Homo sapiens: one gene and its partner. The protein of the gene in region 2 purifies or fractionates together with the protein of the main gene of each other region. This does not show direct contact. Each region holds a gene or a part of one and is shown on either strand. Other genes may lie near its edges.

Evidence for each region. Proteins that work in one complex are often made in the same cells at the same time.
Region 1: the proteins of TMEM9 (region 2) and DNM1L purify together in Homo sapiens (affinity purification with mass spectrometry; one large-scale study listed by BioGRID and IntAct). This does not show direct contact.

Annotation. Positions count from the first base shown.
Region 1 is NC_000012.12:32,738,301-32,741,800, reverse strand, and holds part of DNM1L (dynamin-1-like protein), read right to left. Parts: intron 1,738-3,500; coding exon 1,561-1,737; intron 1,393-1,560; coding exon 1,283-1,392; intron 1-1,282. UniProt on the Homo sapiens protein: Functions in mitochondrial and peroxisomal division.
Region 2 is NC_000001.11:201,140,975-201,144,474, forward strand, and holds part of TMEM9 (proton-transporting V-type ATPase complex assembly regulator TMEM9 isoform a precursor), read right to left. Parts: intron 2,978-3,500; coding exon 2,846-2,977; intron 1-2,845. UniProt on the Homo sapiens protein: Transmembrane protein that binds to and facilitates the assembly of lysosomal proton-transporting V-type ATPase (v-ATPase), resulting in enhanced lysosomal acidification and trafficking.

The DNA of each region.
Region 1 (3,500 bases), on a different chromosome or scaffold from region 2:
AGGCTGCAAACATGTACAGCATGTTACTGTACTGAATAGGGAACTGTAACACAATAGTATTTGTGTATCTAAACATAGGAAATGTACAGCAAAAACATGGTATCATAATCTAACGGGAACACATTCAAATACGTGGTCTGTTGACTAAAATGTTATGTGGTGCGTGACTATACTGATTCATACTACAGTATGGATGAGGCTTAAAAACATTAAGTGAGCCGGGTGCAGTGGCTCACGCCTATAATCCCAGCACTTTGGGAGGCCAAGACAGGTAGATCACCTGACGTCAGGAGTTCGAGACCAGCCTGGCCAACATGGTGAAACCCGTCTCTACTAAAAATACAAAAATTAGCTGGGCATGGTGGTGCACACCTGTTATCCCAGCTACTCAGGAGGCTGAGGCAGGAGAATCGCTTGAACCCAGAAGGCAGAGGTTGAAGTGGGCCAAGACTGCGCCACTGCACCCCAGCCTGGGCGACAAAGCGAGACTCCATCTCAAAAACACCTTCTGCAGAGGATGGGGGCAAGGAAGGAAACAAATGGAATTTTTTTCTTCAGGCCCACAGTGTAAAACACTAGGAACTGTTATTTCTACTACAAGCTACGGGTTTAAAAAGTCTACAAGCAAAAAAGATAAATGGTTCTACAGACAAAAATCATTTATTTCAATATGAAGTATTAGACTGTTTATTACTCTGTGCAGTAAAATTCATCTTAGCTGCTGACAGATTACCAAAAACTGGATGCAGAATATTTTCTAATAGATCACTTCACACAACTAAATGTATATTCTCCCTATTACTGCATGAAATGACATACCAGGCAACATGAAGGAGAAGATGCAGTAGGGACTAGACACATGAAAAAACATTCTGAACGAGAAAAAATACACATATTTCCTAGTAAAAGACATTCGTTTTGATACTTTGGAAAACCAAGTTAAATTAAAAAGGCAAGTCAGTGTTACTAGCCAAAATAATTAATGAAACTACTAAATTAAAATTTAGGAAAAAGATTTTCTTAAATGACTCAAAATGTGGCAGCCAGATAGAACAAAAGAATCTCTCATTTTTAATAGCTTTTTCTAGCTGATACATGAGGTCCTAGTCATTCTATGTTAACAAAATGGGTCTTGCTACAAGTTACCCAAGGACTATCAGAAAATCCACTTGATGATTTAGAATAAAAACCTAAAATTGTAAAAATACATGTATTTTTCAAAACAGATCACAGAATCATCCAGAAGTATTAAAGTCCGTCATTTATATTAAGTAATACTAACCTGTCTTGAATATTCTTTCTGACAATGAGAAAATATGATTTAATGAGTCGTTCAATAACCTCACAATCTCGCTGTTCCCGAGCAGATAGTTTTCGTGCAACAGGAACTGGCTAAATAGGGATGAGGGGGAAAAAATATTACTTTTGTGACACTAAAATGGCAGCTTTAACATCTGAAAGTTATGTAAGTTTTTGAGACTTTTAGTTCTTTCTGTCTAATCGTTTTCCTACTAACTTGGTCACCTACCTTATTACCTAAACCAAATTGTCATGGCTTACCACATCTAGCAGGTTCACGGCATGACCTTTTTGTGGACTGGCTGGCATAATTGGAATGGGTTTTGATTTTTCTTCTGCTAATAACTCTTCAGCTTTTGAAGTTTTCAGCATTCCTCTCCAGTTGCCTGTGGTTGGTTCTTGAACACCATCTCCAACCCCACCACCTCCAGATGCAACCTGAAAAAACATGTTCCAAAACATACCAACCACATCATATCTGACCTTAACTAAAACAAAGTTCATTTTATTTGACAGTAGTCAATATACATCCAGTACCCATCTGAAGTTTATTCAGACAGATAATGAGGTCAGAAGGAGACACTAGGTAGCATGTATAACTGGAACCCTGACCTATCTAAATAATAAAGAAGTTCTGCTCTAAGTTGTTTGCAAGGCATCAACCAACTTATGTTCTATTTAATTCCTTTTTTCTTTATCATTCGCTAACTTTTCAAAATCGTTCCTCTTCTCCCACCCTTCAAACACTAAATTGTAGGAAAAGTATATGCTGCCCTTAAAAACAAAACTACTCGTTAAAAGCACAAAGAACTGCTATTCAGTTTAATTTCTTAAGTAATCATTAACACTGTTAAACTCTAAAAGTTCCATGAACTTACGTCTCTGAACTTAAGAGTTTATATGTTTCTCAATTTACATTTCTAATAGTCAACAAAAATGCCATAAGGTATAAGTAAGAACTCTTTAACAAAAAGCAAGACTACATTTGCTATTCTTAGGCTGACAGTCACTGTGAGTTGTTTCAAATGCGGAATGTGACAAACAACAGAAGTCCCCTCAACCTCTGTACTCTTAAGGATTTGCTGAAAGAAATCTAGTGCTACCATTAATCACAAGTGCTTTTGTACCTTGTTTTCTAGAAAATGTATTAGTCTTGACTTCTAAAAGTCAAAAATGACTTTATAATGGAAAAACAATTCATCAACATTTAAGAGGGTTTTTTTTAGGTATTCTTTAAGATCTTACAATCTAAAAATGGATTATATAAGTTTAATAGAGGATTATGGCAGTTAGAAAAATGGTAGTTTGAGGTATCATTCTGAATCAAAATATTTGCTAAAATCTGTCTTTAGTATGTCAGTTAAGGTGAACTACATTTAAATATAAGTAGTATATTTATGTTACACATTAACTTAAAAATGAGTAATTAGATTTTTAAATGTTTGTTAACTATACATGAATGACATACCAAATGAAATCTTAAGGAGAGAGAGCACATTCAGTGTGACGTCATGAATGAAATAAAACTTGTGCAGTGATTTAGATGGTTTGATTAATATCTGAGCACAGTGGGCTGAGAGAAGATAAGACATTTATAAACCTTTATTTGAAGTTCAGAACTTTAAATCTGGATAATTAAGGAAAGGAGCTAAATGGCAGAAAATCTTGAAATAGCGATGAGTCTGAATAATTTATACATTATTTAATTTTCCTCTAAAATGGTTATCAAGAATTGAAAACAGTCTCAAACTCTCACAGTCCCCATTTGTTTTTTTAATTTGCTTAAGCTTCTGAAGCATATGTGAAGCTATATATAGGGTAACAAGTGCAAACTAACTGGAAGCATAAGAAAGAAGCATTAGATCTATTAGTACTGAACAGATCTCAAGATCTTTAAAGAGGAAAGGAAATGTCCAAAAATACAATTCCATCTCTGAAATCTAGGAAATCTCTGAATTTCCTACCAAAATACTAAATTTAAAACTATTCTTGAAGGTAACAAAACAGTGAGAAAGCCTATTATTGTTACTAATTAAAACAACGTTTAATGCCATCTTCCACAGGTTAGATAAAAGGAACATTAAGAACATAACACAGACAAGAGATAGATACCACTACACAAACAGGTTCTTTAATGGTGGTATAGACAGTGTTTCAGTGAGAACCAAAGGTACCAACATTTCCATTCTGAAGCAAGAGAC
Region 2 (3,500 bases):
GTCTCTGTAAAGACAAGCTCCTTGGGTTCTGTCCAGCCCCAATGCCCTGTTCATCCTCCCTGCAGTTCAGCGGTCACTCTCCCAACCACCCTGAGTGGGCACTGAAAATCCCCCTCTGCCAGGAAGCCTTCCTTCCCAGACTAACACAACGAGAAGGGTAACTTTCCGACCCCTTGTCTAGTAAAGAGGGGCCTCCCAAGGCACCTGACTTTTCAGCTGACCACCCGTCTTACGAAGCCAGATCTTACTGCCAGCCTTTACGTTTCCTGCTGCTTTACCTGCTTTTGGCCGTCTTGGGGCTTAAACCCCCGAGGGCAGACATAAGGTCTGTGCAAATCTCAACACTGTGCCACCTGCAGGTTTTCTGAATACACTGAGAAAAGCAGAGTTGCTGAACCACAGACATCTGTGACCTGGAGACCACACAGAATCACAGGAGGTGAGGGGATAGAGAGATGATGCCAAAGAACGGGACTGGGGGCACTTCCTTACCCAGCCAAGGGCACCCAATGAGATCTACCTGCCCCAGGCCACAACCAGCGAGAGTTGGCTGCACCCTAGGTCAGGGTATCAAAGAGATTAAACACAACTTTTTATGAGCTTTTAGAACCTCAGGTGAGAGGTGAGGGCGTGTCATCCTGTCCATCCCAGGGCCGCAACTTCCCCTACAGGAGGGAGCATGGCTCGCCAGCTTCTATGTGCTGCAGCCTATCACAGCCTACTGTCCTCCCAGGCAGTCCTGCCACAGTTACCAAATCTAGCCCTTCTTCCTCCCAAGGCCCCCTCATACAAACAGGCTTCAAATGAGGAGCACTCCAGGTCTCCTGGGGGTAAGAGAGACCTGGGTTCATACCCAGGGACGGCAAGCTGCTCTCCCCAAGCTGCCCTCCCTCTGGCTCCCTGGCTAGGATGGCAGGAGACATAACAAGGCCATGCCCCAGAGCCATGCATTCCACGGAAATCATTGGGCTGCATCTCTCAATTACTACCCCAGCCAGGACTGCAATTACCACATTACCCCTAATCGCTGAGTGTTTATTAGCGATGCTCCTCCCCTATCAGAGCTGCTATTACTCTACATTAATAACCAGGTAGGCACACGAGGTTTCCTCTTGAACACAGACCACCCAACTGCCAGTGCCACCACCTCCCAGGCCCTAGCTCCAATGGGGCGAGGCTCATCCCCTCTGCTCCACCTTCGGCCAAACTCATGTCAGCAGGAGGCTGGGGGCAAACTGGGAGCAGTCCAGGCATGTGCGCAGGGTGGGGCAACACAGCCCTCGAGAGCAGCCAGGCTCCCTCCCTGATCTGCCCTTCTCTTCGCTGTTCATGCTGGCCCAGACCCACATCACCCAGGCAGCTTCACACTTAGACTTGAGCCCCTGGGTCCTCTTTTTGGTGAGGAACTGGCTCATGGTCTTGCAAGGGAGCCCAGCCCACCTACCCCATAGTTAGACCACGCTGTCTACAGGAAGACTCCCAGCCTCCTCCTCATATTGTGTTAAATCTCTCTGTCCCTGGATGAAGCCAAGCTGTCTTCTACAAACTTCTGAAGGCAGCTATCATGCGTCTCCTTTAGTTGTTTTTCTTTTCCTTTAAGCTAAATGACTCTCAGTTTCTTCAACTAATTCTCTGAGGCCTAGCTGAGGCGCTTCCCGACTAGATATTCCTTATGCATACGCATGAGTTCACTCAGGGCATCCCTCCATCAGTCAATAAACAGGAGTATCTTCCAGCAGCAAGGCCCTGGGGACAGAGCTCAGAGTGGAAGCAGCAGCCAACCCCGCCTGCCTTGGCTCCACGCCTCTAAGCAGCCCGCTCTGCTGTCTCATGCACCCAGCTAGCTGGTACATGAGCGCATAAAGGGGGAGCCCGAGGCACACGGGGCTGTGCAGTCCTCACTCAGGCAAGATTCCCCTAGACCACCTGGGGAGTGCAGGGCTCATCACAACTCTGCTCAGCATGGAGGTACACCACGTCTCACTCCCACGAAGAGCCCTTCACCTGAGCCCTCCTGTCCCCCCGGGTTTCCTCGCCATGGTGTCCACAACTTTTTAGTATGAGGATGAATGGGAAGACGGTGACAGCGCTTGTTAACTGCACTGGGCCTGGTCCAAGCCCTGCCAGCTCCCCACCATTGCATGAACTCCTGGAGGCCTTGCAGGCTGTCTGGGGTCAGTGGTTCCCCACTTTCCTTGTCAGATAAAGCCAAACCCCCTTAGCTTGACATTTGGGACTTTTAATAATGTGACCTAAATCTACTGGCCAGCTCTCTTTGCCACTATTCAAACATCTCTACCCTATCCTTGCAACGCTCAAAATTCCTCACACATACTTGGCAATGTCCCCTGCCCGGCACCACTGTCTCATTCCTCTTCCGCTCTTGAAATCCTACATTTCTCCCCAGACCCTGGAGCTCTGGTTTGCATTGAGCAAGTGTTCAACAGATGTTTGTGGAATCACTGGACAAACAAATTAACCTGCTGCCGTCCAGTCCACCAGCAGCTTGTCACCAATGTCTGAGCACACGGGGGATATCATGTGTATCTATGTGTGACTGGCTCTGGCTGGCTGCGCCCCCTCTGCCTGGAAGCACAGTACAGCAGGATGACATGGCTCCCCCGGCTTGTACATGGAGACTGCTTGATGCCCGGTGTCCTGCTTCATCTGGAAGGGCAAAGAGCAGGTCCCTGCTGAGTCTGGGTGATGTGTACGACACTGACCAGAAGAGCAACTTGAAGCATTTTGGGGAGGTGGGACCTGGACCTAGGTGACGCTCCTCTGGGTTTTGCCCTGGGGACGCACATGCAGGGACCCAGGGCCTGGGCACTCAAAGCCCTCTTACCTCATTCTCCTCCTCATTGTGCAGTTGCTCAGTATATGCATCCGGCTTTCGGATCAGAGGGTCCACCAGCATCAGGAAGGCCATGTAGAGCAACAGGGCACCCACCACGGACAGGTAGATGACAATGATGACCTGAGGAAGAGACCGGCGTGCCTATGAACCATTATCTGAGGCCAGGGCTAGAAATCCGTTGCTAGTCTTGGGCCATCTGTGTCCGGCTGGCAGTGACTCCTCAAGTGGTGCACTAAGAAAGGACTTGGAGGCAACGTGGGCTCAGAGGGAAAGCATGCCCAGAAAGGAAAGGGAGGGCCCTACTCCACAGAGGAAGCACTCTGTCCTAACTTGAGGGAGTCTGCACAGCAGGCATCACGACAGCAGGCAGATGACAGAGGAAGAAGTCTGGAGCCTGATGCCGAGAGGCTCCCGGGGTAGAGATGGGAACACAAGGGCCTCCCTGGCTGTAGAAGAGTTCATGATGAAGGGTGGAAAGCAATCAGAAACTAAGAGCAAGGAAGAACAGGCTGTGGAGAGGCTGGAAAGCTGGGGCCAGGAAAAGTAAACCTGGGCTGGTGGGCTCATTGCTCCTGTGGAGAGCAAGACGGATGGGGCGCGCTGGCCCACTCATGGCATGCCCCTGAGCAGAGTGGCTAGGGCT